3 separate regions of the Homo sapiens genome follow, and all the other regions are linked to region 2. The links come from fine-mapping of genetic effects on gene expression. A gene starts in region 2. Each other region holds a variant in brackets. All regions are shown on one strand. Distances are between the middles of the regions. Region 1 has its middle 14 kb from the start of SSUH2. Region 2 holds the start of OXTR (oxytocin receptor). Region 3 holds the start of LOC124900561 (small nucleolar RNA SNORA43).

Evidence for each region.
Region 1: its variant is fine-mapped to the expression of OXTR in nasal epithelium (TOPMed, PIP 0.96).
Region 3: its variant is fine-mapped to the expression of OXTR in tibial nerve (GTEx, PIP 0.97).

The regions. Positions count from the first base shown.
Region 1 is chr3:8,653,331-8,664,091 of GRCh38, reverse strand. It overlaps a transcript of SSUH2 not described here. Among named protein-coding and RNA genes, the nearest start is that of SSUH2, 14 kb to the right of the region's middle. RefSeq lists a silencer at 414-503 and enhancers at 5,420-5,469, 5,500-5,549, 5,700-5,889. The variant A/C (reference allele first, on the strand shown) is at 5,198.
Region 2 is chr3:8,764,815-8,775,366 of GRCh38, reverse strand. OXTR (oxytocin receptor) reads left to right here and starts at 5,754. Exons shown (of 4, transcript NM_000916.4): 1 at 5,754-6,136; 2 at 6,776-6,871; 3 at 7,038-8,101. The coding sequence starts at 7,180. RefSeq lists enhancers at 5,590-5,639, 6,287-6,958, 7,631-8,302 and a silencer at 7,250-7,309.
Region 3 is chr3:8,927,494-8,938,254 of GRCh38, reverse strand. RAD18 (RAD18 E3 ubiquitin protein ligase) reads left to right here. Exons shown (of 13, transcript NM_020165.4): 7 at 2,200-2,384. It overlaps LOC124900561 (small nucleolar RNA SNORA43), which reads right to left and starts at 6,760; the gene lies at 6,623-6,760. The variant C/T (reference allele first, on the strand shown) is at 4,197.

The DNA of each region.
Region 1 (10,761 bases), 110 kb after region 2:
CAGGACCTGCTAAGAGGACTTGGCAGGGCACCTGGGTCAGCAGAAACCTCGTGTTGACATGGGCCGGGAGAGAAATAACCTGGGTCTCCCAGCACTTCCCTTAGAAGCTATATTGTGTAAGTTAACAAGCCAAAGAATCCCTCACTGTCTAACCAAGGAAAATATTTTTATCTTACTCAGAAAGCAGTTCCCTCCTTTGTGCAGTGCAGCTAGAAGAAAACAACATTGTCTTGGGACACGCATCATTACTAAGAATTTTTCCGTAAATTTATCTGTGTGCCTTCTACAGTTACCTGTGTGTCCCCTGTGGTACCTATGGAAACCAGTTGTTGGGAAATCCTTGTTAAGGTAAGAGCGTCTATGGACCAGTGTGTCCCAATAGCTTTGGATGGGGGAGGCTGAGTTAGTTAATCAATTAACACATTCCTAGCACCCCCTGGTGGACATTGCTGGTCTAACTGACCTTGGAATTCCTGGACTTGCCTGGGCTGGAGATATCACACCCAGCCAGACACCCCCCACCCCGCCCCACTGCTGTGGCCCCCACCTGACCCCGACTGCCAACCACGCCTTCTTAATTTTCTCTGTGTTTTTCTGTCGCTTTGTGTTTGTTTCTCACAAAGCCCTGATGAAACTATCAGGGAACAAAGGACGAGAGACAGGGGTCTGAATCCAGAGTAAAGAGTTTCAGTTCCAGGCACTTCCTTGGGCTCAGCCCATGCATTGCTGTTCTCTGTATGTCAGACAGGAGGGGGTAGGTGAATTCCAAGGCTCCTTGTAGCAGAATAATGCAGTGTGGTAGAGCCTGGGCTTTGGGGTCGGTCAGACATCTGAGATGTTGGTTTATATCTGAGCTTAGTACTTGAGGCAAGTTACCTCAGTGCCACGAACTTTAGCTTTATGAGCTGTAAAATGGGGATAATAATGATAATAGCTGTCCCTGGATTTATGGTGGAGATCAAATGGGAGCAGGCATGCAAAGCCCAGCTCAGCATGGCACGTTAATTATCAGGCTCAGCTCATGGCAGTGGCTGTTTTTATTAATGCCACTGTGATCTTCCAATGATTTGATCCGGGAGATGCCTGCTGAAGAGAGCAAATCAATCTCTACACGATAGTAGGAATAGTAGCATCGATATGGCCTTGGTACTTATTTTGCATTTGGAAAAATTCCAAAATGCTTCATTCATCTCAGGTTTTTAGTGGGTAATTTGTCCCAAGTCAGTACCACTGGAGCCTGGAGCCATCTTCAGCCACGTGGGTGTCATCACATCCCTGTCTGCGAGTGCAGATTTGGGATGAAGACCAGAGTCAATAAGGTAGGAAATGACATCTGCCTAAGTGGCCCTGTTGGAGCCTGGGGAAAGCAGGGCTGTGTAGGTAATGATGTTCTCTGATGTTTCACAGCTGTAACTCTGTTCCTTGTTCCTGAGTAGGGCCAGGCTTTTCTGGTCTAGGTGCTCAGCCTTCTTCTACTTCTGTATATCTGTCCTTGTTCCTTCTCCTTTTTCATTCCTTCCTTGATTTTGCTAACACACATAGCACTCGCTGTATACTTGCCTCAGTACTTCACAGGAAAAACTCAGTTCATTTTCTCAACAACCTTGTGAGCTAGTTCCTGTCATTATGCCCCCTTCACAGGTGGGGTGAGTAGTGCCACTCTGGGTCCTGCCATTCACTGGGAGGGAGACCTCAGGAGGGACCAGGTCAGGGCTCTGACTGGACACTCAGTACTGACGTTTGGTATCAGGAGGGCAGAGTGAGACAAAGGTGCGCATTTCACACTCAGCTTCTGTTAGGGGACACAGGTTTTGTTAGAGGACAATTCCCCATGGCCCTCTCTCATTTCTGCATGTCTTGCAAGCAGAGGCACTGTCTGCCTTTTGTTCTGTGTTATCTTTGCATAACAAACATTCTTGGGAGACAGAGAGAGTGTCTCCCATTGGAACAAAGGTGGGCATGTGTATTAGTGTACTTTCGCACTGCTGATGAAGACATACCTGAGACCGGATAATTTATAAAGAAAAGAAGGTTTAATGGATCCACAGTTCCACGTGGCTGGGGCAGCCTCACAATCATGGCAGAAGGCAAAAGGCACGTTTTACATGGAAGCAGACAAGAGAGAGAATGAGAGCCAAGCAAAAGGGGAAACGTCGGATTTCATGAGACTTATCCACTACCACAAGAAAAATATGAGGGGAAACCATCCCCATGATTCAATTATCTCCCACTGGGTCCCTCCCAAAACACATGGGAATTATGGGAGCTACAATTCAAGATGAGATTTGGGTGGGGCCACAGCCAAACCATATCGGTATGCTTACTTACAACAGGTTCCCCAAGCTAAGCATTGCTGTTCTGTAATGCAACCCACTGCATATACAGTATTACCTGGCCCTCTTCATGTGGTCCTGTGGAAACTGAGGCTGAGGGCACTGGTGCAAAAACCTTGATTGTCTGGCTATTGCTGTTGCTGTGATAATAAAGTCCTTTGTCTCGGATTCGGGAGTCTCTCACGCCTCCTGTCAGCATCCATGAAACAGGCAGGCTGACTTGTTGGCTTGCAGGTAGGGTAAAATCTCATTGCCTTCACAGTTCCTGACAGCTTCCAGGTTCATGACTTAGAGGAGGCAGAAGTTTAGGATTTTAATGATGAATCAGCCATAGCATCCACTCTTAAATTGCTCATAGACTAATGGGTGTAGAGGGAAAAGGATACGTGAGAGAATGACATACAAGTTAAACAGTGAATACTTTCAGAGCAGTTAAGGAAAAGACAGTTGTTGGGCATGGCTTGAAAGATGAATGAGATTTTGGTGGATTAGGAAGCTGGGCAACGGAGTTCTAGGCAGAGGGAACAGAGTGAGTGAAAGCACAGAGGTGCATGTGAAGGCCAAGAGTGGATTCAGGGGACAGTGCCTGGTTACTTACAATTGTAAAATATTTCTTTAGTAAGGTGTAAGGAGCAGTGGCTAGAAGAAACAGCATGGACTTCGGCGTCAGACAGTAAGTCCAAGAGCATGAGAGCCAGAAATGCATGGCCAGCTGGGCTGGACAGCTTCATCCATTCTTCCAGAGTCACCCTTTACCCTTCACATCCTGCTCACTGTCCTGGCAGCCTGGCCTTGTCCCCTTGCTCTGTCTGGGTTGGCCAATGGGAGGTGCCAGTGAGAGATGAGTGTGTTGCAGGAAACTGAGGACAGGAGAGACTGATACGGAGAACAGGAGGATTGTTTATTTTAGGTACTCACCGGCTCAGTGGATTCATATCCAAAAAGCTGAGCATTGAACAAAGACTGAGCACAGTTTTTATAAGTTGACTACAGAAGCAAAACAAAAGCAGCTAATCATATGATAGGTCATATAATCTATAGCATAACGTAACTTGTGGCCCTGCATAGCTGTTGGCCTTGTGAAAGAAAAACAAGAACAGGCTAAATATAGACATTTGTAAAACACAGCTGTACTTAAGAAGCCAGGGAAAGGAGCAGTAACAATAAAGGAATTTGTCTTTCTCTCTTTTTTTCCCTTCAATCTTGCTCTGGCAGGGGGTTGTCTGGAGCCCATTCTTTTGGCCTTGGCTTCTCAAACAGTGTTATCTTATAACTGTTCTTGAAGTGAGATTGCTAGACAGAGGAAAACTTGTTCTTTTCTTCTTAACCCTTGACTTGCCTGTTACTTTTCTTGGAGTGAATGAATGCATATTTATTTTAAGTTTCTGCCTCAAGTGGATGAGAGGCGAGTGAGGTCAGGGTGTTGATCTTGGCTCCTGGCCTGCAAGGTTGCCTTGGGCTGCTCTTTTCCTTTGATGGAAAGTCACTGTGCCCTCAAGGGGGTCTCTAACCAGCGCTCTCTTTATGGATTTCTATAAATTCCTTCCTCTCACCTTTTCAAGTGGTAATGGCTGCATTACAACTAGCCAGGTAACCACACTCTCCTGTGTGGTCCCCAACCCTGCCTGTTAGGAATTGTGTAGTCCCTGTGGAAACTAACACGCCTCCTGGGATCTGACTGGAGCAGACTAGCTTCCCTGTTGGGACCCGAGTGGTACAGTGGCTGATGGGGATGAGATGGGAAGAACGTTAGGTCAAACCCTAGAGGACATGTGTTAGGAGCCTGTCTGAAGAATGGTTTCCTAGTTTCACCTAATGAACTCCATTCTCCCTTTAAGATCCAACTCAGATGTCTGCTTCCCTGGAAAGATTCCCATGAACCCATGCCACTTTCCATAGCATTTATTGACTGTGTTCTAATTGCCTCCTTCTCTATCTCTCTCTCTTCTGACTGCAGGTATCTGATGAATCTCCATATCTCTTACACTGCACACAATAAATACCCATTGAATGAATGAATACATATATGGATGGATGGACAGACGGATGATGCATGGTAGATGGATGAATACTGGATCCCATGCCCATTGAGGGTTTGGGTCAGGGGACTGATGTGAGCAGACACACAGAAGCACGGGCAGCCCCCGGCCTCCAGCAGATTCTTCCAACCCAGCTGGAAAGACATGATATGGACTTGGGAATTCTCTAACTCTGAAAGGCCCCCTCTGCTGAGGTGTCCCATGTTCACAGACAGTGTGCATGACCAGAGGTCAGAAAGAAGGGAGCTCACTCTGCTCTGGGCAGGGGGAGATCAGGGAAGGCTGCCTGGAGGAGGTGAGGCTGGAGTGGGGCATTGAAGGATGGGAAAAGTTATGTGGATGGAGAGGCGGAGGGAACAAAGGCCTGGGAATCTGATGGGCCAAAGGGAAGACAGGAGACAAGTAAAGCTTGGAGATTTTGTCGAGAAAAGAAGAGAGGAGGCAATTAAGGTGGGAGAAATGACACCAGAAAACCACTGAAAATGCCCCAGTGGGGTTTGTTACTTTTAAAAAAAAAGCAACCACAAAGAAAGACAATGAAACATCCATGTTTTCTTTAGTAAGGTGTAAGGAGAAGTGGCGCCAAGAAACAGCATGGATTTCGGAGTCAGGCAGACCTGGGCTAGAATTTCACCCTTGCTGATTTTTCACTGTGTGACTCTGGGCAGGTGACTTTACCTCTCTGAACCATAGTTTCCTTTTCTAGAAAATGGGCCTTGTAATAGTACCTCTTAGGGCTGCTGTGAAGGAAGGATAACATGGAAGCAACATGCCTATCATAGTGCTTTGTGTATGGTAAGTACTTTGTTGATGTTATTGTTAATA[A/C]TATGACTACTATAGCCTTTATTATGTTTTGTTTTGTTTTGTTTGGGGGAATGTGACATTTGAGAGTCCTGGGCATTGTCTGCAGTAGCTGTGGCAGCTGTGATTGTGGGTAATAGAAGGAGAAGTCATGCAGGCACAAGGCTTTTTTTCTTCTCTGTTTTTTTGTGGCCTGAAAGAATGAGATAGCAGAATATTAATACTGCTATCTGGAGGCTTGACGCTGGGGCCTGGCGGGGGCTTGTTTTTGCAGCCAGAAATAGTCTGGCCTTTGCCTTTCCAGTGGGCAGGTTGCCAGGCCAACGAGTGTGTAAACCACCCGGCCGAACAAAGCAAAACTATTTTTACCTTGGGGAGCCCAAGAATGCATCACAGAGTTTACGCACCTGCCCCACCCAGCCTGGCGGCCCAAGCCAGTCGCCAATGGAGGCTGGTCTGCGGCAAGCAAGTGGAAAGCAAACAGTCCTGCCCCTTGGGGACCAGCTGCCCTGGCAAGGATACCAGGTGTTCCAGAAAGGCCCAGAGTACCCCCTCTTTCTCCTCTAGCCAGAAACTCTGAGAGAGTTTCTGAAGTGGTCACGCAAGGAGCAATAAAGGTTTAATTTTACCACCTAATTCGATATGAATAACAGCAATTCTACTCATAGCAATGCCTTCCACTTACTGAGATTCTGCTAGCCACAGGCACTCCGCTAACTGCTTACACATGTCGTCATCTCTTAGCCTGTAATAAATATCTCCATGAGGGTCATCCCCAGTTTTCTGATGTAGAAGCTGAGGGTCAGAGAGGTTAAGTGACCTGCCCAGGGTTACCCAGCTAGGATGCAGTTTGACCCCAGGCCCATTCACTGCAGAGTGGATGCTCTTCTCACCTCCCTCACTGTCTCCCCACACATGGGAAGAACAGGGAGGGCCAGCCTTGGAGTTGTCGTGGGGAGAAGGGTGCCTACGGTCCTGCCCATGCAGGGCTATGCAGGCGTGGAGGCTGGGAAGAGACTGGGACAGCCCCACTGCCTGCTGATACCAGCAGATATGCACACATACTGGAGAGCGAGGGTGGCGCCATGCCTGGTTCTCTGCTGAGCAAGAGGGAGGCCAGGGTGTCGGAGTCTACAGAACTGAATCCTCCATGTGTTACCATAGTGAAGGCTTTTCTTCCTTTCTCCCTCCCTCCTTCCCTTCCTTCTATACTCACCTCTTGGTAGGATGTGGTAGAAAGAGCATAATTTCGGTAGTCAGCCTTTGTTCCCTCCTCTTCTCCATGTACTTGACTCTTTTCATCCTTCAGTGCCCAGTGTCAGCCTCGCCTCCTCCAGGCAGCCTTTCCTGATCTCCCCCTTCCCAGAAAAGAGTGGGCTCATCTGACCTCCTGTCGTACCCACTGTCTATGAGCATGGAACACCTCATGGAGGGTGGCCTGTCAGTGCTAGAGAACTTCCACGTGTCCATGTCATGCCGTCCCACCTGGGTTGAAAGCTGCTTGAGGGTAGGGGCTGAGTCTTGGGCTTCTTCATGCCACTTTGTATTACTCCTCTGCCTCCTAACCTTCCATGACTTGTACCACCCTTTGGATTGATTATTCATCCACTCACCTATTCAACAAATACTCATCAAGTGCAGTGTCAGTTATGTGAAGATGCCTGAGATGCTATCCTGAAGTCTAGAGTCAATCAGGAAAGAGAGCTAAGAAAGGAGGTAATTATAAAACAGGGTGGTGGGCCAGGCACAGTGGTCCAGGCCTGTAATCCCAGCACTTTGGGAGGCCAAGGCAGTAGGATGACTTGAGGTCAAGAGTTCCAGACCAGCTTGGCCAACATGGCAAAACCCTCTCTCTACTAAAAATACAAAAATTGGCCGGGTGTGATGGTGCATGCCTGTAGTCCCAGCTACTCAGGAGGCTGAGGCAAGAGAATCACTTGAACCTGGGAGGTGGAGGTTGAAGTGAGCTGAGACTGTGCTACTGCACTCCAGCCTGGGTGACAGAGTAAGTGAGACTCTGTCTCAAACAAACAAACAAACAAACAAACAAACAAACCAAAAAATGAAGCAGAGTGGTAAATCCCATGGAAGAGGAGGCAGACTCATCGTGGGAGCCAGAAAAACCCACATTCAAATCCCGGCTCCACCACTTCCCACCTGTAGGAGCTTGGTCAAGTCACTTCCTCCCTGTGCCTCAGTTTTCTCATTTATAAACTGAGGCTAATAACAATTCTCAACTCACAGGGTTGTAGTGAGGACCGAATGAGATGATGTGGCCTTTTCGTCCTTTCCATCATGTTGGCTCCACATGGGCAGGGGTTGTGTCTTCCTCGCTCCCCGTCGTGTCCCCAGCCTAGGGCACATGGTGGGGCATGAGGACTGTTTGTGGAATGGCTGTTGCTCCGTCCCTGGGTCACAGTCAGTGACTGCCTGGTGCTGTCAAGAGGGGCTGAGAGTCCAAGAATTGGAACGCTCAATCCATAAGCAGGTTTTGTGCCAGGTTGGGAACACAAAACAGGGCAGAGGTGGCCAGGAGGCGGGCAGCAGCGAGGTTCCAGGAGGCCTCATTTCCTGTATGTTAGAAGAATAAATAGTAAAATGTGTCCTGGACCAAACCTTTGTTCCTTTTCTTGCCAGACTTGCTTATGGGAAAATTAGCTGCTTTTAGCAGAACATGGAAAAGAGGGAGAGTATATATTGCCAGAGGTTTAAGTTTCTCAATTTCAAACCTAAACATGAAGGCTTTTCAGTTGTGTGTTCTGTTTGAGATTTGCACAAACCTGGTCTCTCTCTTTCTCTTTTTGTCTCTCTCTCTTTCTTAAAATCTTAATTTCCTTGGTTATTGTTGAAGTGGGACACAAATTATTAAAAAACAGAACAAACCACCCAACAACTAGAAACTTTGTTTTCATAGCAGCACAGGCTTATATTTAGTTAGAATAATATTCTTTTGAAATTCAATTTCCCTTATTCCACAGTGGTAGGAGGAGAAGAAAAAAAAAGTGGAGATATCTGAAACATTCCCCAGCATTCTGAACTTAGGATAGAACAGAGCGGGTTTTGAAATCCTGGCCTGTGTGTTTGCCTCCCGAGTCTTCTGCTCTACCTTCAATCATTCTTCTGACAAAAACAGAAGAGCGAGGGGCTGTGTTATCAGTTTTCTGATTGGCTCTGAACAAAGGAATGGTGCTTTCTCTCCACGCTGTCAGCTCATTGATGTCAATCAGAAAATGGATTCGAGGCATGTTTGGGATTCCGACTAGTTTGTGTGCATAACGAGTTCCAAGTCAATATTTTCAGAGGGATGAAATAGATAGAGGTTGTGGGGACTAATGGGGGCAAGAATGACCCACTGAGACCTTGGGAAGCCACCCACTGTGATCTCGGGGAGGCCACACACTGAGACCCGGGGGAAGAGGCCACCCACTGTGATCTTGAGGAGGTCACACACTGAGACCCGGGGGAAGAGGCCACCCACTGTGATCTTGAGGAGGCCACACACTGAGACCCGGGGGATGAGGCCACCCACTGTGATCTTGGGGAGGCCACACACTGAGACTGGGGGATGAGGCCACCCACTGTGATCTTGGGGAGGCCACACACTGAGACTGGGGGATGAGGCCACCCACTGTGATCTTGGGGAGGCCACACACTGAGACTGGGGGATGAGGCCACCCACTGTGATCTTGGGGAGGCCACACACTGAGACTGGGGGATGAGGCCACCCACTGTGATCTTGGGGAGGCCACACACTGAGACCCGGGGGAAGAGGCCACCCACTGTGATCTTGGGGAGGCCACACACTGAGACTGGGGGATGAGGCCACCCACTGTGATCTTGGGGAGGCCACACACTGAGACTGGGGGATGAGGCCACCCACTGTGATCTTGGGGAGGCCACACACTGAGACTGGGGGATGAGGCCACCCACTGTGATCTTGGGGAGGCCACACACTGAGACTGGGGGATGAGGCCACCCACTGTGATCTTGGGGAGGCCACACACTGAGACCCGGGGGAAGAGGCCACCCACTGTGATCTTGGAGAGGCCACACACTGAGATCTGGGGGAGGCCACACACTGAGATTTGGGGGAAGAGGCCACCTACTGTGATCCTGGGGAAGCCACACACTGAGATCTCCGGGAGAAGACCACATACTTTGATTTTGGGTAGGCCACACACTGAGACCTTGGGGAGAAGGCCACACACTGTGATCTTGGAGTGGCCGCACACTGAGACCTTGGGGAGGACACCCACTGAGACATTGAGATATTTATATTTTCCCTGGAGCTCCGGCATCTGTCTGTAAAGTGAGGTGCTACGGTTCTATTCCTACTAATTTACCCTATGGAAACACACACACATGTGTAGACATAAGTACAAGGCTATCTTTAAACCACAGCAGTGTAACTGCAGGGAAGTAGGAGACAATTTGGGTGTCTATTGAGAGGAGAATGGTTAAATACATCATGATACATTCCTACAATGGGAAACTACGAAGTGTTAGAAATAAAGGAAACTGAGATGACGTGGGTGATTCTACAAACATGATGTTGAGTGAAAGAAGCCAGATTCTTTTGTTGAAAATTCATCTGTTGAAGCCCTACCCCCTAATGTGATAGTATTTGGAGATGGAGTCTTTAGGACGTAATTAGGTTTAGATGAGGTCGTGAGGGTGGGGTCCCCAGGATGGAATTAGTGCCTTTCTAAGAGACAGAAGAAAGCTTGCTCTCTCTCTTTCTCCTCTCCACATGAGGGCATAGCAAGAAGGCAGCCATCTACAAGCTAGGATGAGAGCCCTCACCAGAACCCAACCATGCTGGCACCCTGATCTTGGAATTCCAGCCATCCAAATGGTGAGAAAATACATTTCTGTCATTTAAGCCACCAGTCTGTTGTCATGGCAGCCTGAGCTGACTAATACAAGTGCCTGCTGTTTGAGTCCAAATGTATCAAGTTCAACAGGCAAAACTGAGCCATGCTGTTACAGGCAGGGGAACGGTTCCCACTGGGTGGGGTGGAAGGGTCGGGAGGTAGAGAGTGAGTACCGGAAAGTGGCCTAAAGTGGCTTCAGAATCTGGTCATGTTCTGTTCCCGATCTGAGTTTTGGTCACACGGGTACATTTACTTTGTCAAAATGCATCCAGTTGTGTTTTTAAGATTTGTGCTTTTTAAAGGATTTGTGTTATAATTCAGTAAAATGTATACAAAGAAAAATAATCTCATTCAAAAATTATCAGTAAAAACAAAAGTCTTGTGAACAATATTTTAGTTATTTCTATGTTATTCGTATTCAGCCCAGTGCCTGAATTTAAACCGGATTGTGTGCTAAATGTAAAATCTGCTACAGCAACAACAATAAAATGAACAAGGTAAAACTGTGTATGCTGTTGACACAGAAAGATATCCATATTGTATTTTTTGTTTCTTCTTAACAAAAAGGATGAGCAATATTTACAGCATGATTTCATTTACGCTTTTTAAAAATTCTAAGTGTATGCACACTTATAAGCAAATTTACATGTAAATTGACATGTGGACATTGGAGGTGGGGTGACCATTAGTTTTTAGTTTTTAATCTTTTGAATC
Region 2 (10,552 bases):
GGAGAATGGCACACAGGGATCAACAACATCCTTTCTCACAAAGAGCCCTCCTTCAACTTGATTTTCATAAAAATACCATTCTAGGAAGCAGGGGTCTGAGTCTGGTGACTCATTTGCTAAGGGGTGTTCTTGGGTAATCCATCAGCCATTTTCTCAACACATTTTCATTCATAGGCATGCATGATAGGAAAATGATGGGCAAATATAGAAAGGACTGTGATATATGGGACTAATTCTAGGCACTTATAACTGGATTGGGAAGACTGAGCACATTCATACTGTAAATATAGTTTTTGGTCATGCTAGAGAGGTTCAGAAAATAATGATTTCTCAGTGGGCCAGGGTGGTCAGGAAAGGCCTCCCTGAAAGGTAAAGAGTCAGTATCCCCATCTCACCAGTTAGGGTTCAAAGGAGTTACTTTCCTTGCCTGGCACAGTGACATTCCCCCTACCTTCCAAGATGCAGTTTGTCTGATTAAATTGAAAATATTATGAACTCCATCCAGAAAGACTAATAAGATGGAGGTTGATTGGATCAGACACTATTTTCATGGAGTGGTCCTGGGGTCAGGATTGTCAGCATGGGAATAAAGATTTGATTGTATAGTTCTCTGCTGTTTGTGAAGCACTCTTCATGTGCATTAAGTTTGGTTTATACACACAGCCTCATGTGATCAGCACCTGGGGAAACCAAGTCTCAGAGAAGTTCAGTACCTTAGCCACGCTGACAAAACGTGGTAAAATCCAGATGCTAGCAAGCACTTACTGCTGCAGATTCAGAGCTCTCTCCAATAGGAAAGCACATTTTTCTCTCTTTCTCCACCCTGCATGGAACACAGGAATGAAAACAAAGGCTGGGAAGTCCAAAATCACACAGGCTAGAAGGAATCCGTGCAAGTTCTACCTATAAGCAGTGGCCTCCTGACACAGCATCCTGGCACGGCCTCAGGAACTTCCCAGGTCAGCCCATGTGCCCTGATGTGCCTGCATCCGCACAGAGCTATAAATGTAAGAAGATCAAGTGTGCCAGCAGCAGGCTGATTGCTACAATGTGTTCTCAGCCTTTATGCCTGAGAGCATGTCACTGACCCCCCTCCTGGAGCTAGGAGCCCAAGCAGAGGCTGAGAAGTTATTTGGGGGCAGGCTGGGGAGGCGGTGATGTTAGGGAGGGGGTAGGTTGGATGTGTTTATAGCTCATTTCCACTCTGACAATAGAGCAAAGGCCGCTTGGGCTTGGATCCATGTTGAAATAAATGTGCCAGGGCTGGAAAATTCCCAAGATGCTAAAACTCAGACCCAGTTCCCAGAGGCAGAAGTGGGTACAGGACAGGTCATTCTCTGGGCAGGATACCTTCCCCAGAGGGCCTGGTTCTGCCCATGGAGATGTTTATTTCTTCCCTCCTTTCCCCCTTCCTTTTATCCTTCTGTATTTAACAAATACCTGAAAGGTGCCTATTCTATAGTGACCTAGGCCTTTCGAAGTACAGGTATAGACAATATTGGCCCCACCTTTAAGATGCTTGGATACAAGAAAAAAACAACCCCATTAAAAAGTGGGCAAAGGACGTGAACAGACACTTCTCAAAAGAAGACATTTATGTGGCCAACAAACGTATGAAAGAAAGGTCAACATCACTGATCATTAGAGAAATGCAAATAAAAACCACAATAAGATACCATCTCATGCCAGTCAGAATGGTGATTATTAAGAAGTCAAGAAACAACTGATGCTGTAAAGGATCTGGAGAAATAGGAATGTTTTTACACTATTGGTGGTAATGCAAATTAGTTCAACCATTGTGGAAGATGGAGTGGCAATTCCTCAAAGACCTAGAACCAGAAAGACCATTTTACCCAGCAATCTCATTACTGGGTATATACCCAAAGGAATATAAATCATTCTATTGTAAAGATACCTGCACATGTATGTTCACTGCAGCACTATTCACTATAGCAAAGACATGAAATCAACCCAAATGCCCATCAATGATAGACTGGATAAAGAAAAAAATGTGAGATATATATATATATATCTATATCTATATAATCTATATATAGATATATATAGATTATATAGATATAGATATATATAGATTATATATATATAGATTATATAGATATATATAGATTATATAGATATAGATATATATAGATTATATATATATAGATATATATAGATTATATATATATAGATATATATAGATTATATATATATAGATATATATAGATATATATATATATAGATATATATAGATATATATGCCATGGAATACTATGCAGCCATAAAAAGGAACAAGATCATGTCCTTTGCAGGATGGATGGAGCTGGAAGCCATTAACCTCAGCAAACTAATACAGGAACAGAAAACCAAACACCACATGTTCTGACTTATAAGTGGGAGCTGAATGATGAGAACACAGACACAGGGAGGGGAACAATACACACTGGGGCCTGTCACGGGGGCAGAGGGAGGGAGAGCATCAGGAAAAATAGCTAATATGTGCTAAGCTTAATACCTAGGTGATGGGTTGATAGGTGCAGCAAACCACCATGGCACACATTTACCTATGTAACAAACCTGCACATACTGCACATGAACTCCAGAACTTAAAATAAAAAAAAAAAAAAGATGCCCGGATACTCAGACAGATGAAGACATTTGTAAATCAGGGATTGCTGAATCTCTGTCTGTGATGGTTCATTTTGTGTGTCAGCTTGGCTGGGCCATGGTGCCCAGATATTTGGTCAAATATTATTCGGGATGTTTCTGTGAGGGTATTTTTGGATGAGATTAACATCTGGAACAAAGTAGATCACCCACCATAACGTTGGTGGGCTTATCCAATCAGTTGAAGGTCTATATGGAACAAAAGACTGACCTCCCTGAGCAAGAAGGAATTCCGCAGCAGAGGACCTTTGGACTTGACCTGCAAAATCAGCTCTTCCCTGGGTCTCCAGCCTGTCAGCTCACTCTGAAGATTTTGGACTTGCCAGCCTCCATAACACATGAACCAATTCCTTAAATGAATCTCTTTCTCTACATATATACATCCCAATGGTTCTGTTTCTTTGGAAGACCGAAAGACACCCTGTAATGTCACATCTTTTGTCCATGCCTACAGCATCTCTTGCCTGGATCTCCAAGGCCTTCATAATGCCAGTATCTCCTTTCCCATCTTCCCTGTGGCTACCAGCATTCTCTCACCAAGCACAGATTTGAGTACGTTGTTTTGCTTGCAGTCCTTCCAGGCACCCCACCTTCCCCACCAATGCCTTCTAACCTCAGTCATCTTTACACTAGCACCTTCATGATTTTTGTTATATCAGACTTTCTCTTTGCTGACGTCAAAAGTAAGCAGAACTGAGAACTGAATTTCCTCCCTGTTATTCAGTATCACTCAATATTAAATTCACATTTAACACTATCAGAAAGTATTCCATCCCATATTTTGGGGAATGTTGGGTTACAGAATAAAACCCATTCTCCTTTACATGGCCTTGAAGTTCCTTTAGCATCAATAAGTACAGTTATCTCTTGGTATCCATGGGGGATTGGTTCCGGGAGCCTTCAAGGTACACAAATCCCTGATATAAAATGAAGCAGTATTTGCATATAACACGTGCATATCCTCTCACATACTTTAAGTCATCTCAAGATTACTTGTAACACCTAATGCAATGTCACTCGTCACTGCATTTGTGTGCATTCAGTGTTGTAGGTGGCACATGACAAATTCAATTTTTGCTTTTTGGAACTTTGAGGATTTTTTTTCCTGAATATTTTCAATCCATGATTGTTTGAATCCACTGAACTCACAGATACAGGGATATAGAGGGCCAACTGTATGTATTAAGTGCTGGCAATGTGCTAGGCACCAAGCAATTCATCTTTAGTCCTTCCTCCAAAACGCCAAAGTGATTCCCCTGCACCACTCTCTGAGAAGTATGCCTTTTTTCTTTGCTTCCTGGAGAACTCATTCTGGAGCTCTGAAATCCAGCTACCTCTTTGTAAAACGATCTCCCAAGTATTACCTCAGCCCCCAGCAGTCCTCACTTCTGTAACATCATTTATTGTTGTCACACTGCAAATATTAGGTTGATGCAAAAGTAATTGCAGTTTTTGCCATTATTTTTAATAGCAAAAACCACAATTACTTTTGCACCAATCTAATATGTGTTTTTCTCCCTGGCCGAAGCTCAAAGGTGAAGGAGCATGTCTTATTCATTGTTAGGAGTTTTCAAGGGGACCTCTCTATTTCCTGCCTGGTTTCTGCACACAATGAGAAATAAAACAAAAGACAGGAAATGGGGATCACACTATTACTGTTGTTGTTATTGTTGTTGTTTAGATTAAAACTAAGTTAGAGAATTTACCTTTTGCATGAGACTAAATAGCCCTGTTAGGTGAATCCAGAATTAGGCTGTCTCACGGGCTACGCGAGGACCACACAGGTAGGCAGGCTTCCCTACAAAGGGTAGAAGAGTCTGTCCTTGGTGAAGTGGCTCAGTAAACTTGCTCCCTAGAAAGCAGCTGTCTTCCAGGAGAAAGAAGGGCAGGCTTGGTTCTACAGGCCAGTGTTTTCCTTCTCACATTCACCGGTCAGGGGCTCATAGGGAAAAATCTGCCTTCATCCAGCCGTGGAGTGAGGCAGGGGTGTTTTACCTGCTAGGATTGAACCCTCAGATTGCACAGATTATACAGTTTCAGAAAACCAGAGGGACAGGACCTCAGACATTAGCTATCTTGACCAGTGCTCTCATTTTACATATGAGGAGACTGAGGCCCAAAGAGAAGGGGCTTGCCCAAGGTCACTTCATTCTCACCTGAGTCGTCTGTAACTTTAATCTGTAATTTTCGAGGCCGATAGGTACTATTGACTAATATTGATTAATACTGCCTGCCACCCCTTGGCAATGCTGTCAAGATTCCCAGCCCCATTCTGGAATGATTACTCAGCTAGAACCCTGGGATCCAGGTGCTGTAAGGTTGGCCCCTGGGATATCTCGGCATGGGGCTGTAATTGTGGATTAAGGAAACCCAGTCCTTGGCTAACTCAAGTCTCTCCACATAATAAAAAGACGGAGAAGTGAAATGTCAGGAGGAAATACACATTTAATGCATTTTAAAGAGCCCTGTTTATTTTTGAATCCTGGCCTTTTTTTCTGACTTAATTCTTGGCCACTGTAAATTACTTCAAAAAATGATTTTAGAATAGAGAAGGGGCAGGGAGGCTGAGAAGCTGTCTTTAACATTTTATCTTCCTTTGGCATCATTTAGAATTTTAATTCCGAAGCGCGACAAGGAGGCAGAAACGGCTCTTGGGCGCAGACAAGCAGAATCACTTTAAATGAAGACAGTGTTGTGCTTCAGAATTTCCTCTAAAACTACCGAAAAAATAACGCCTCTCCCAGCACTGCTTAGAATAGAGGCCATTTCTAATTCCTCATTAACGGGAATAGGAACAAAAGTATTCCAAAGCAAAGACTTATTTGAGTTCACTGCTAAAGCCGCTACATCAAGCTGGAGGTGTGGGGGGAGAGAAAAGCCTGAAAATTAACATCATTTTTGGGAAATAATCAGTTTAAATGCTTTTGTAACTTCATCACTATCTACCCGGGGAAGAACATTATTATTCAAGCCTCCTATGTGTCTCGGAGTCAAGAGCTTCTAAACCAAGAAAGGAAGAAACGGGCGGGTTATTGACGAGTTCCCTCCCTCTCGCAGTTTTAAACCACTGCAAAATAAACCCATTTGTTAAGGCTCTGGGACCAACGCTGGGCGAACCAGCTCCGCTCCGGAGGGGTCTGCGCGGCTGGCCTCGCCCGCCCCCTAGCGGACCCGTGCGATAGTGCAGCCTCAGCCCCAGCGCACAGCGCCGCATCCAGACGCTGTCCGCGCGCGCAGCCTGGGAGGCGCTCCTCGCTCGCCTCCTGTACCCATCCAGCGACCAGCCAGGCTGCGGCGAGGGGATTCCAACCGAGGCTCCAGTGAGAGACCTCAGCTTAGCATCACATTAGGTGCAGCCGGCAGGCCATCCCAACTCGGGCCGGGAGCGCACGCGTCACTGGGGCCGTCAGTCGCCGTGCAACTTCCCCGGGGGGAGTCAACTTTAGGTTCGCCTGCGGACTCGGTGCAGGTAGCTGGGTGCTAAGCAGGGGTGGACGGGATGGCTAGGGCCGGTGGAGCCATCGGGACCCGAGTGGAGGTGGTGGGGTGCCTCGCACTCCTTGTTCCTGGAGGAGCTCGGGGTGTTCCGAGAGATTGTAAAGTGACTTCTCGGGATTGAGACTCAGAGTCCTTGATTATCTGGGTCCAAAGCGCAAGTCAGGGGTTCCAGAACTTTCGAGGCTGCCGGGCTGGGGAGGAGCCCCGCGGGAGGTGTCTATGCCAGGGTCTGGGAACAGCGCTTGGGCATCTTGGGCTTTGAGGCAGGGGTTCCCCCAGCAGGGACTGCAGAACCGGGTTTCCACCGAAGCAGGTGCTGTGGAAGTTCAGGGAGTGACGGCCGACCGTCTTAGAAAAGGGGGTTAGACGGGGAAGGACCAGAGCTGGGGTTTCCCAGGCAAGTGGCTATTTGGGGATTTCCGGAGGAAGTACTTGAATTAATGTTTACTAGGAGAGGGGCTGGTTTGGGGGTCCCGCGGCAGGTGGATATGCTGAGGGTCGGAGCCTGGGGCGAGTAGGTAGTTTGGAGATTCCCTCGGGGAGGTGATTTGGTTTTAGATTCCCACTCCCGGAGGAACGTTGCTGATTTTGACCCTCCCTTCTCCCCCAGTGGAAGCCGCTGAACATCCCGAGGAACTGGCACGCTGGGGGCTCTGGGCTTGTGGCCGGTAGAGGATTCCCGCTCATTTGCAGTGGCTCAGAGGAGGTACCTCCAACGGGGATTTCTGGGGTGGCGGCTGAGCAACCCGAGGCCGGCGGTTGTGCCCTGTTGTTTCAGATGAGTTGGGTTCCTGGGAATGGGACAAGCACGCCCTACCCGCGTCGGAAGAGAAACGCGGCGGTCTCCTCACGGCCCTCCCGGTTTGTTTCAGGGTGGACCCAGCAGATCCGTCCGTGGAGTCTCCAGGAGTGGAGCCCCGGGCGCCCCTACACCCTCCGACACGCCGGATCCGGCCCAGCCGCGCCAAGCCGTAAAGGGCTCGAAGGCCGGGGCGCACCGCTGCCGCCAGGGTCATGGAGGGCGCGCTCGCAGCCAACTGGAGCGCCGAGGCAGCCAACGCCAGCGCCGCGCCGCCGGGGGCCGAGGGCAACCGCACCGCCGGACCCCCGCGGCGCAACGAGGCCCTGGCGCGCGTGGAGGTGGCGGTGCTGTGTCTCATCCTGCTCCTGGCGCTGAGCGGGAACGCGTGTGTGCTGCTGGCGCTGCGCACCACACGCCAGAAGCACTCGCGCCTCTTCTTCTTCATGAAGCACCTAAGCATCGCCGACCTGGTGGTGGCAGTGTTTCAGGTGCTGCCGCAGTTGCTGTGGGACATCACCTTCCGCTTCTACGGGCCCGACCTGCTGTGCCGCCTGGTCAAGTACTTGCAGGTGGTGGGCATGTTCGCCTCCACCTACCTGCTGCTGCTCATGTCCCTGGACCGCTGCCTGGCCATCTGCCAGCCGCTGCGCTCGCTGCGCCGCCGCACCGACCGCCTGGCAGTGCTCGCCACGTGGCTCGGCTGCCTGGTGGCCAGCGCGCCGCAGGTGCACATCTTCTCTCTGCGCGAGGTGGCTGACGGCGTCTTCGACTGCTGGGCCGTCTTCATCCAGCCCTGGGGACCCAAGGCCTACATCACATGGATCACGCTAGCTGTCTACATCGTGCCGGTCATCGTGCTCGCTGCCTGCTACGGCCTTATCAGCTTCAAGATCTGGCAGAACTTGCGGCTCAAGACCGCTGCAGCGGCGGCGGCCGAGGCGCCAGAGGGCGCGGCGGCTGGCGATGGGGGGCGCGTGGCCCTGGCGCGTGTCAGCAGCGTCAAGCTCATCTCCAAGGCCAAGATCCGCACGGTCAAGATGACTTTCATCATCGTGCTGGCCTTCATCGTGTGCTGGACGCCTTTCTTCTTCGTGCAGATGTGGAGCGTCTGGGATGCCAACGCGCCCAAGGAAGGTAGCCAGGGCTGGGAGACCCAGGAGGAGGGAGCCTGGTGGCTGGGGGAGGCCCTTATCTTGCTGCCTCAGAATGTCCAGGGGTCTGTGGACTTCCTGGGGGATAAGCGGGTTTGAAATCCCACAGAGTCACTGCTCTGTCATCCCTTGACCAAGTGACTTAGGGCAATTAACCTCCCTGAGCCTCCACTTTCTCTTCTGTAAGGTGGCAATAAGGATAAAAGTACCAACTGTCACCAGGCATAGGGGAATGCCACGAGAAAATGCAGTTAAAGTCCTTAGCACAGTCCTTGGGCTGCATATGGGCTGTATGGTTTACTGTGGTGGTGGAAACAGGTTCAAGGGACTCCATCTGCTTTCCCACGTGGTTAGGAGGAGGTGGTGGAGGTAAGTTTGGAACCCCTGGCCAAGCTCAAGCTCCTTCAACTTTAAGTTCACGTTAAGATGAACTTCCACTTTAAGTTCAAGAAATCCAGCTGAAGCCAAGAAGTCTGGTTTGGACAAGGACAGCCTTGCAGGAGTGGCAATTTGTCCAACCAAGCACCTAGTAGTTGAAGGGGGTGTTGGGGGGCAGAGGAGTCCAAGGGAGAGGTGAAGACAAATCCCTGAACTCCTCATCGAGTGGAGGTGATGAGTCTCCATGCAGAGAGGTGAGTACTGCAAGGAGTGGTGGGCAGGCTTAGGGAGGAGAGCGCCCAGGACTGAGACTTCACTTCCACTTGGAGGAAAGAGAAGAAAGCCTTGAGGGGGACATTCAAGTTTGAGGGGGAGGCTGGGTGATTTCTGTAGGTGGGGAATGTGCCTTCCAGGTAGGAGGACTGCTGAGGACAAGGCTGAAGGTGGGGCAATTGTCCATTCTTGGCCTGTGCCAGAAAGCTAAGAGGAGGGCATAGAAGAGGGCGACCTAGGGAGAAAGCTTGGAGGAACAGAGGCACCCTAGGGCTCTGGGGTTTGTGGCTGGTGCTGGGTGGCTGTCCCCAAGGCACAGAGCACCAGGCAGCTTCCTGTCACTCCCTGCCCCCCAACCCCTTTCCAGTAGCTCATTTGGAAAGACCAGGAGGGGGTGATTGCTGGTGGTGAATGATTTATAAGTTTTTGTTTGAAGGCAATCCCATAACGCGTGCTGGATGCTGGGGACTTCAAATGTTTGTAAAGAAAGACCAAAGGATTTGCTTTCACCCTTTCTGCACTCCAGACACTGCAAATGTCCCATTTCTGTGTGCAGTTACTACTGCTCCCAATAGTCTCAAATACATGCATCCTGGGAAGCCGAAATCTCAGTGCCAGCTGCTTTCATTCAGTTTGGTAACTTTGCTTTGGTCCTTTCTGAAAATCACAGACTCCAGGCTTTATGGAACCCTCCCAGTTAGCTCAGTGTTTGCTTTAGTGGCCAAGACACTGGTTATTCAATATTTACCGAACACCTGTGGCCCCTGGTAACAACTTACAGAGAGGGTTCTAGGGCCCCGAGAGGGGAAGGCACTTGCACCAGGTCACACAGCAAGTCAGAGGCACAGCTGACGTTTCCTATGCCAGGGTTCTTATGAAGGACACATGATGAGGGAGTGGGGTTGGGCAAAAGCCAGTAGTGGAAGTCTCTAAGTAAGGCCTTAGGCCTCACCTGTTTCCTGGGCAGATCTGAAGAAACCAGATCCAGGTCTTGAGGAGCTCGAACACCAACTATCAAGAAAGTGAAACCAGCACCCTTTGGAGTAGATACTGGAGAGATGTGGGGTCTAGTCCTCCTCCAGCCCTTACTAGCTTTGGGATGTTAGATGAGAGATCTCTTTATTCCCCTTGAGCCTTAGTCTTGCTTTTAGAATGAGGACATTTCAGCATTCAGTTAATTCATTCAACAGACATTCCACTCCTCTCTCCTTGGGGTCCCCTCGCCTCTCCCATTCATGTCTTGAGTCTCTGGTGATTTTTCTCCTTCCCTTTCCTCCCAGCTCCCTCCTCTATGGCTTCCTGCTTTTCAGCCCCCTCACTTGCACTCCTCTTCTCACTGTGTGTCCTCCCTAAAGAAGGAGAGTGTGTGGTCAACACGTCACACGTACCGTGAAGCGAAGTTTAGATCTTTTCTACACTTTAAAAGCACGTCAACAATTGATTTCTTTGTCTTAGAAGCAAAAGAGAGAGGAAAAAACAGACACACACAGATCCTGGCCAGAGTGGAGGTCATAGGCCTCTTGAGTGTTTGTGGTCCTCTGAGGATTTTCCTGGGGACCAGACCTTCAGTAGAGACGGGCTCCTGCTGAAGCCCAAGGGGCAGGGAAAGAAGAGGACTTTAAGAATTTCAGGTCCTACTTCCCTTTGCTTCTTTAGGAATTCACAGGGAAGGGTGGGTGTTGCATGAAAAACCCAGGGCTTCTCTTGGTCCTCCTCAGCATTCTGTCTCAGGTACTGAGAAGAATCCAAACACAGACCGGCAGGGATTCATGATGCTGCTGCA
Region 3 (10,761 bases), 160 kb before region 2:
GAGTCCAAACCTGGGGCAGTTTTACATGCACAGTACTCCCACCTAGTGGGTAAGTTTGTTAATGAGAATAAAATTTAGATTTTTAGGTTGCTTAGTGGTGATTTGGAGTAAATGAATAGTCCTAAGGATTATTTCCCATAAGCCACGAGAGTTTGATGAACTGCTTTTCTCTTTAGAAATGCATGAGTTGGGAATATAGAAGCTGAGTATATTCTTTTGGAAGAGTAAGGAATCTGCACTGATTATCTTGCATGGACTCCCCTTTTTCTAGATCCATCCATCAGTTCGAATACATTTCTGATACATCATTTCTGATGCTGTCAGTTTGTTTGAAGACATACTCGTCCATGTGTAATTAAGTTCTAATAGTGGTTTAAATTCCTGCTTCAAAGAACACTATAGTCCTGCCAGTGCTCTGTAGTGAACTTATAAGCACTACCTCCTGGATCCCCCTCTTAGTGTGTTAAAGGCTTTGAGAAGTCCTACATTAAGGGTTACTGTTAGGTTTTGTTTAATTTAGTAATCCTAAATTTATTTGACCGCCAAGCCTTTCTGTTCTCATCACTTCCATCTTACAAAACTGGTGTTTGTGGAGATTCTGAAGACAACACTGGGCCATGTTCTTCTTTAGTTGTATCTTGGCCACGGAGTCAGGTCATAGAGAAAAGGCCCTGTGAGTTTTCCTGTCTCCTCCACAATATTCTGACAGGCCATCTGCTGAATGTGAGTGGCAGCCCTTAACCCTTCTATATAAAACCATGTCAGAACTGCCTCAGATTCTGAGGCCCCTTAAATGTATTACTCAGTTCCACTAAATCATGGAAGAAAAATCAATGTCATTTTCGTGTTTGGGGAAACATTTATCAGGTTTCATGTTTTAAAATTCCTGATAGAAATTGTTGATCTCTGGTGGTGCTTTTTATTGTAAATGCCAGTGAACAGTACAGTTCTTCACTGGAATTTCACAGTCACAGTTTAATCATCTGTCCTTGATAAAACAAATATTTTAGATACAGACGTAATGAATCATCTCTCCCTGTGTGCTTCTGTAAACACAAAATGATTCAGCTGTTGCTACCTACTGAGATTTCATTTTGCCATAATTTTATCAACCTTGTAGAGTCAGATGGGTTGTCATTGTAAGAAGAGCAATTTTCAGAAAAATATAATCTATTGAGAGTTTGCAGGTCTTTTCACAGTTAATTAGTTATTTCTGGCTTTTAGACTTTGTTAATACAGCATAAAAGACATAATTTATTTGGGGAATGGCTCTGTTGGTTAATAGAGAAATTTTTGATTGTTTTCAGTCTATACCTGACTGTAATATTTCTCTGTTTGATTATTGGACCGTTTATATCAGATTTACTCTGGAGAACCTTGTTGAAAATAGAGATTTTAGAGCTCCACTTCAGACCTGAACCCTAATTGGTGGATGGTGTGGAGAAGGGGATGGAGAATCTGCGTTTTAAATAAACTCTTTAGGTGCTTCTTAGGTACACTAACGTTTGGGACAGCCTTGTGTGAGCTAGTTATATGCAAATCCTTTGTAAAAACTTGTTTTTTGGATAAACCTATTATTTCAAGTTTCTGTTAATTTTCACCTGAATCTTTGCTATTCTTATTTTGAAATGATAGCAAGTGTAATGACCTCCTTGAGCACATTTTTGTTAAGCATCTAATTGCCATAAAGCTGAGCCAGGTAGAGAACCTGCTATAATCAGGTGAAATGAATTAAAACTCACTAAGAAGTTCCTGTTTATGGAATTGCTTAAGTCATTGGTACTTTTATGTAGCTTGAATTTTAGCCCACTAGAATTTCTAGCATGCTTTAAAGAGGTGGAAAATTGAATAGGTCTATGTAAGTGTGATTCTAAGTGAAGTCCTCACAGCATATTCCACAAGCGTTACATATATGTCTTCTAAGTGTGCCTCTTTAGGTCTGACCTCTTTTTGAGACCCAAGTCTCTCACTTCTGGTGCCACCTAGGCCCCTGTGTCTGAATGTCTTACCAGCACCTCAGATACATCATGTCAGACACTCAACTTTATCCACAAACTTGATTTTTCTCTCCCCTTTTTAATCTAATGGTTCTACTATTTTCCCGGTCACCCAGGTGTTGAATCAGAATTTATTTGCCATTTTACATGAAAAGCATTTGATAATTCACAATAATCATCAGGTATCTTCCCCCCTTTTCAGTTCTGTTCACAAAAGGAAGCCGCTGCCCAAAACTGTATATAATTTGCTCTCTGATCGTGATTTAAAGAAAAAGCTAAAAGAGCATGGATTATCTATTCAAGGAAATAAACAACAGCTCATTAAAAGGCACCAAGAATTTGTACACATGTACAATGCCCAATGCGATGCTTTGCATCCTAAATCAGGTAAAGTAATAAAACAGTGAGTTATGCTTACTTTCTGGATAAAGCAATTTTGTGTAGCTCAGAAATTATAAACCATAGAAAAATATTGTAAATAAATACATTTTTGATAGATAAGACGTGCAAATGTGTTCCTTCAAAAGGTACCTAGAGTATGCTATGATAAGCCAGCCTTCCTCTCAGCCTGCCTTCCAATCCCCAGATCCCTTCTCAGAGGCACCCCATTGCCAGTTTCTCATGTGCCTATCTAGGGAGAATGTGGTGGGGAAGAGTGGATCTGGAGAGCCTGGGTTACAGTGCCCGTTTTTCAGCTTTGTGGCTTGGTGACTGTGGGCACGTTACTTGATATCTCTGTACCTCAGTTTTCTCCTTCATAAAATAAGGGTTATAATAACTACCCACTTCATAATGTTGAGTGAAATAAATGATAAAAGGCATGAAAAGTGCCTAACACAGTACCTTAGCAAGTAGTTAGCTTTCAGTAAATGTTGCCATTATGATTATTGTACACAAACATATATCCTTTTCATTACTGTTTTTACAAAATGATAGTATTCTGTGTAGTGCACTATTTAGTGGTTGGTTCTTTTCATTAAACCACACACATACATTGGAGTTCTTTCTATTAACATATAGAATTGCCTAATTTTTAAAAACTTGGAGAATAACATGCAAACATTAAAACACACAAATTATAAGTGTATTGTTTGGTGAATTATCACAAACTAAATTTCATAAAGTGAAATGTCATTGTAGCCAGTACTGAGATCACTACCAGCGTCCCAAAAGCCCTATCTGCCCCCTCCCATTCACTCCTTCATTCTCACATTTGACCACTGTCTTGACTTCTAACCCCATATGTTCATTTTGCCTATGTTTGATCTTTAAATAAAGGGCCAATAGCTTATGTATTCTTTTGTGCCTGCCCTCATTTGTGCAACATTATAAGATTCATTCATGTTTTTTTATATGGTCATGTTTTTTTCATTTTTGTTGCTATATGGTATTCCATTGTATAAACGTATCATCTTATCCATTCAGTGTTTAATAAACATTTCATTTTGTTCCCACTTTTCCTCTATTAATAATGCTGCTACAAATAATCTTTTATATATCTTGTGGTGCACATAGGTGCATGTTGCTGTTGGATATATATATACAGGAATGGAATTGGTGTTATATATTTGCAGATATTCAGCTTTCATGGATACAGCCCCAAATTCAGTAGTCATGTACACTTTCATCAGGAGGGTGTGAGGGTGTCAGTTGTTCTGCACCCTTGACAACATCACCACTGTTAACTCTCCATTTTAGCCATTCTAGTGGGTCCATGGTAGTACCTTGTTATTTTAATTTGCATTTCCTTAATGACTTATAAATTTTATATGCTTGTTGGCCATCTGGATGTCCTCTGTAGTGAAATACCTGTTTAAATCTATGTCCAATTCTTCTGTTCTGTGGGCCTATTTTTATTCTTATTTGTGGGAGTAATTGAAATTTCCTGGATAAAAATCTTTTGCTGGATGTATGTACATTTCTAATTTCACCTTTTCACTCTCTTAATGGCATCATTGAAGAGTAGAAGTTCCTAAAATAGTCCAATTCATTACATTTTTCCTTTTGATCAGTGCTTTGCCTTAGCCTACTTCAAGATCATGTGGATCTTCTCTTGTTTTCTTTTAAAACTTTATTGTTCTTGCTCCTAAATTTTGATGTACGGTTTATCTGGAATTGATTTTAGCATATGTTGTGAGGTAGAGGACAAGATTGTCTTGTTTTCTTTCCATATGAATAACCAATTGATGCAGCACCACT[C/T]ATTGAAATGCCATCCCTTCTCCCACTGAATTGCCAGAAGTCTTGGCTGAGAATCAGCTAATTGTACATGTGTAGGCCTGGACATTGTTTTGTTCCATTGGGCTATTATTTACCGTTGAGCAGGATAAATAATGTGTGTCTTAAGTACTTTATGAGTAATTTATAATAGGTCTTGCTGTCTGGTAATATAGTTCTTCCAGTTTTGTTTATTGAGGTTGACTTGTTTTTTCTAGGCCTTTTGTATTTCCATATAAGTTTTTAAATTGGGATTACATTGAATTTATAGATCAATTTTGAGATAGTTGATATCTGTATAGTATTTGAGTCTTCCAATTCATGAATATGGTTTGTCCCCTTTTTTGTCTTTGATTTTTGTCAGTAATGTTTTGCAATTTTCAGTGTGAAGGTCTCACACATCTTTTTAAAGAGTTATTCTCTGATATTTTTGATGCAGTGGTACACGATGTTTTATTCTAAAATGTCAATTTTTATTAGTTGCTTGTACACAAAAATACAACTGGTTTTTCTATAGTTTCCTTATATCCAATGGCTTGTCGCTTTTTGTATGTGCCCTTTTTATTGATGTATAACTTACTCACATGTAATACATCCTTTGAAAGTGTATAGTTAGATGAATTTAGGCAAATGTATATTGTCATTTAGCCATTGCTCTAACTGAAATGTAGAACATTTCCTTCATCAGCAAAAGTTCCAGTGCCCCTTTGCTGTATATTCCCTCTCTTTTACTCTAAGACCTCAGGAAACACTGATCTCTTTTTTTGTCCCTATAATTTTACCTTTTCTAGACTGTCACATAAGTGGAATTACACAAATTGTATAGTATGTAGCATTTTACATATGGTATCTGTCACTTAGCATAATACTTTTGAGATTTTTCCATGTTGTTGCTTTTACCAGTAGTGCATTTATTTTTTATTTTATTTTATTTATTTATTTATTTTTGAGACAGAGTCTCTCTCTGTCGGCCAGGCTGGAGTGCAATGGCGCGATCTCGGCTCACTGTAACCTCCGTCTCCCAGGTTGAAGCGATTCTCCTGCCTCAGCCTCCCGAGTAGCTGGGACTACAGGTGCCTGCCAGCACGCCCGGCTAATTTTTGTATTTTTAGTAGAGATGGGGTTTCACCATATTGGCCAGGCTAGTCTTGAATTCCTGACCTTGTGATCTGCCCGCCTCTGCCTCCCAAAATGCTGGGATTACAGGCATGAGCCCCCGTGCCCAGCCAGTGCATTTATTTTTTATTGCCAAGCAGTGTTCTGCTTTATAGCCATGCCACAATTTGTATATCCCTTCACCTGTTGATGGACAACTGGACTGTGTCCAGTTTTTTTATTATCAGTAAAGCTGTTATGAACATGGGTTCACAGGTCTTTATGTAACCATATGTTTTCATTTCTCTTGGGTGGAGTGGAATTGCTGGTCATATGGTAAATGTAACTATAAGAACCTGCCATACAGTTTTTCAAATGACTGAATCATTTTGCATTGTGAGAGAGTCCCACTTTTGCCACACCCTTGCTAACACTTGGTATTTTCATTCTTCTTAATTTTAGCCATTCTAGTCAATGTGTAGTAGTGGTATCTCATGATGGTTTTAATTTGCATTTTCCTGTGACTAGTGGTGTCTGCTGTCTTTTGATAGTTTTATTTGCTATTTGTATATTTTCTTTGATAAAGGCTTGGTTGAAATATTCTGCCCCTTAACTCTTTTTATTGATTTGTAAGTTATTTATATATTCTGGATACTGAATTTTTAAAATATATGTGTTGTGAATATTTTATCTTTGTATGTGGCTTACCTTGTCATTTTCTTAATGATGTCTTTGAAGAGCAGAGAGTTTTAATTTTGACGAAATTTAATTTACTTTTTTTATGATTTATGCTTCTTGTGTATCATTTCATGATTTTTTATGTATACAATTGTGTTGCATGTCAACAAAATATTTGCTTATCCTAAGATCACAAAAAATTTCTCCTGTGTTATTTTCTAGGAGTTTTATAATTTTCGCTTTTATATTTAAATCTATGATCCATTTTCATTTAGTTTTTCTGTATGGTGGAAGGTAAATGTCAAATGTCAAAGTTTATTTAAAAAATATGTATATCTAGTTTTTCAGCACCATTTGTTAAAAAGACTATCCTTTCCCCATTGAATTACTTTGCCCTCATTGTCAAATCCTAACGGCCATGTATATAGCATGTGAATCTATCTAGAATCTATTCTGTTCCACTGATCTATATATCTGTCCTTTCACTCATGACACACTCTTGATTTCTGTAACTTTATAGTAAGTCTTAAAATTATCAGGTAGTATAAGTCCTTCAACTGTGTTCTCAAAATTGTTCTAGGTCCTTTGCAATCCCACATAAATGTTAGACTCAGTTTTGTTGTTGTTGTTCCCCTAAGAAATGTCAGGCTATTATCCATTCTTGTTGTTCAGTGTTTTCTGAACACTGAGTGTAGAAATAGCCACTTTCACTTCGCCCCGATGTTACAGGCATAGCAGAGCATCTGCATCTGTGCAGCTGGCAGGTCCAGGACAGCATCTGCAGGGCAGTCAGTTTATTAGTGTGTACCTTTTGGGATTTTGAGTGAGATTACATAGATCAGCTTAGAAATGATATCTTAACAATATTAAGACTTTTAATGCACAGTCGTGGTATGGCTCTTTAGGCCTCCTTTACTTTCTCTCAGTAGTGCTGTCTACTTTTTTATGTGTGTGTGTTCCATGTATTTTGTTAAATGTATCCTTAAATATTTCATGTCTTTTGGTGCTATTGTGAGTAGTTTTAAAATTTTTATTTCTCATTGTTTATTACTATTTTAAAGAGTCATTTTGACATTTATTTTTGTATATTTACTTGTATACTATTAACTAGTGAAACTCATTTCTAATTGCTTTTTTATAGATTTCATAGGATTTTTATATACACAATCAAGTTACATGCCAATAAAAACAGTTTTATTTATTTATTTTTTTCAGTCGATATGCCTTTTATTTATCTTTCTACCCTTGGTTAGTTGCATTGGTTAGAACCTCCAGTGTGATGTGGAATAAAAGTGGTGTGGGCAAACATCCTTTCCTTTCTCCAATCTTTTTTTTAAATGAATTTCTTAAGAAAGGATCTCTGACTTTCATCTGATTTTTCAAGGGTCTGTCTCCCCAGAAGGAAGAATAATTGCCTTCAAAAATCATTTGAGTGACAGTACTATTGCATCAATATATGTTCTTTTAATTCTGGAATACCCCAACTTATAGGTAAAACATTTAGTCTTTCACTATTAAGTGTGATAGGTTTTCATAGATGCCTTTTATGAGGTTGAGGACATTTCTTCCCTTCCTAGTTTATTATTATGAAGGCGTGTTGAATTGTCATTTCCTTATTCTACATCTATTGAGATTATTATATTTTTATTTATTTTGTGATATGATTTATAACATTGAGTATTAATCAGTTTATTGAAATATAATTCATATAATACTGAGATATAATTCATACCCACCTGAAGTGTACATACAGTTCAGTGGTTTTCAGTATATTCACAGAGTTGTACAACTATCATATTAAATTTTAGAACATTTTGTTACCCTGAAAAGAGCCCAGTATCCATTAGCATCATTATCTACCAACCCTTCCAGCCCTAGATAGCCACTAATTTACTTCTGTCTCTATAGAGTTGTCTATTCTGGATATTCCATTTAAGTGGAACCATATAGCATGTGGCCTTTTATAAACTAACTTCTTTCACTTAGTATAATGTTTTCAAGGTTTATCTGTGGTCAATACTCACTTATTTTTCATTGCCAAATAATATTCCATTGTATGAATATGTCACATCTTTGTGTCTGTTCATTAGTTCAAATCTGACATTTTTCCACTTTTTGGCTATTATAAATAATGCTGTTATGAACATTTATGTACAAATTTTTATGTCGACATATGTTTTCATTTCTATTGTGTCTTTACCTAAGAGTAGAATTGCTGAGTAGTATGGTAATTCTATTTTAACATTTTGAGGAATTGCTAGACTATTGTCCAAAGTGGCTACACCATTTTACATCCTACTAGCAGTGTATAAGAGTTCCAGCTGTGCCGGGCGCAGTGGCTCATGCCTGTAATCCCAGCACTTTGTTTGGGAGGCCGAGGCAGGTGGATCACCTGAGGTCAGGATTTGGAGACCAGCCTGGCCAACAGGGTGAAACCCCGTCTCTACTTAAAATACAAAAAATTAGCTGGGCGTGGTGGCAGGCGCCTGTAATCCCAGCTACTCAGGAGGCTGAGACAGGAGAATTGGGTGAACCCAGGAGGCGGAGGTTGCAGTGAGCTGAGATCGTGCCATTGCACTACAGTCTGGGCAACAGAGTGAGACTCCGTCTCAAAAAAAAAAAAAAAATTAATTCCAGTTGCTCCATGTCCTTGCCAACACCTGTTAGTCTGTCTTTTTCCTAGTGGGTGTGGTATTGATTTACATTACAGTGATTAATTTTTGAATATTAAACTAACCATTCATCTTTAGCAAGGAATGTGTTCATTTCATCTAAGTTGTTGAATCTATAGCCAGAGGGTTCTTTTTGTTTTTGTTTTTTTAAGTAACATTTTCTTGTTAACCTTTTAATATCTATGGGGTTTGTGGTGATTTACTGTCTTTCATTTTCTATACTGAAAATGTGTCTTCTTTTTTCCTGATTGTTCTACCTATAAGTTATTAATTTTTCTCGTTTTTCTAAAGAATCATCCTTCAGCTTCATTTTTCTCAAATTGCTTTTTCTCAGTTTTTGTCTGTTTTCCTATTTCATTGAATTCCAGTCTTTTATGATTTCCTTCTTTCTACTTACTTTAGGTTTAATTTGCTCTTCTTTTTTTAGCTTATTATGGTGGAAGTTTAGATAATTTCAGATTGTTCTCGATGTATTTAAAATACAGATTTTTGTCTAAGTGCTATTTTACCTCTATTCACAGACATTGATAGGTTGTATTTACCTTCCCATCCAGTTAAAATATTTTCTAATTTTTGTTGTGTATTCTTCTTTGATTCATATGTTAAATAGAAGTATTGTTTAATTTTTAAAGATTTTGGTTATTTCTTAGATACCTTTTTATTATTCATTTCTAATTTAATTCAATGTTGGCCAAAGAACCTGTTCTGTATCATTTCAGACCTTTCACATTTACTGAGACATGCTTCATAACTTAGGTGTTAGGTCTTCCTGGTGAATATTGCATAAATACTTGAAAAGTTTGCTTTTTTGTGCAGTGATCTGTAAATGCTATGTAAATTTACTTGATAGTATATTCAAGTCTTCAGCATCCTTGCTGATATTCTGTTTACTGATTCTATCAATTACTGAGAAGCTTTTTGAAATATCCAACTATATTTATAGATTTTTCATTTTCCCTGTCAATATTTTCAGTTTTGTTATATTTTGAATCTCTTAGTATTATTATGTATCTTCTTGATTAGTTAGCCTGTTTATTATTATGGCATATATGTCTTTGTCTCTGGTAATATTCCTTGCCTCAAAAATCTATCTGATATGAGTATAGCAGCTACTTTATTTCATTTTTCTTTAAACCTATTATACCATTATGTTTAAGCTGTGTTTTATTGTAAGCCGTATATGGTTTGGATTTTATTTTATAATTTAATTTGACAAGCTCTACCATTAAATTGTAGGGTTTAAACTATTTTAATTTCATTTATTCTATTTGGTTGGGTTTATATCTGCCATCTTGCTTGTTTGCTGTTCTATCATTCTTTTGTTTTTTCTTCATTTCCTGCTTTTTTTTGGATTAACTGAGTATTTTTTAGTTTTTTATGTTATCTTCATTTTACGAGCTATACTTCTTTTTGTTTTTTTGTAGGGGTGATTGTTCTAGTTTACTATATGCATTTTTAACTTATCTCAGTCTACCTTCAATGAATAGTACACTACTTCATGTATAATGGAAGGACCTTAAGACTTTCATTCTTTTTTTTTTTTTTTTTTAAGTTTTAGGGTACATGTGCACAACGTGCAGGTTTGTTACATATGTATACATGTGCCATGTTGGTGTGCTGCCCCCACTAACTCGTCATTTACATTAGGTATATCTCCTAATGCTATCCCTCCCCACTCCCCCCACCCCAAAACAGGCCCCAGTGTGTGATGTTCCTCTTCCTGTGTCCAAGTGTTGTCATTGTTCAGTTCCCACCTATGAGTGAGAACATGCGGTGTTTGGCTTTCTGTCCTTGCGACAGTTTGCTGAGAATGATGGTTTCCAGCTTCATCCATGTCCCTACAAAGGACATGAACTCATCATTTTTTATGGCTGCATAGTATTCCATGGTATATACGTGCCACATTTTCTTAACCCAGTCTATCATTGTTGGACATTTGGGTTGGTTCCTAGTCTTTGCCATTGTGAATAGTGCCACAATAAACATATGTGTGCATGTGTCTTAATAGCAGCATGGTTTATAATCCTTTGGGTATATACCCAGTAATGGGATGGCTGGGTCAAATGGTATTTCTAGCTGTAGATCCCTGAGGAATTGCCACACTG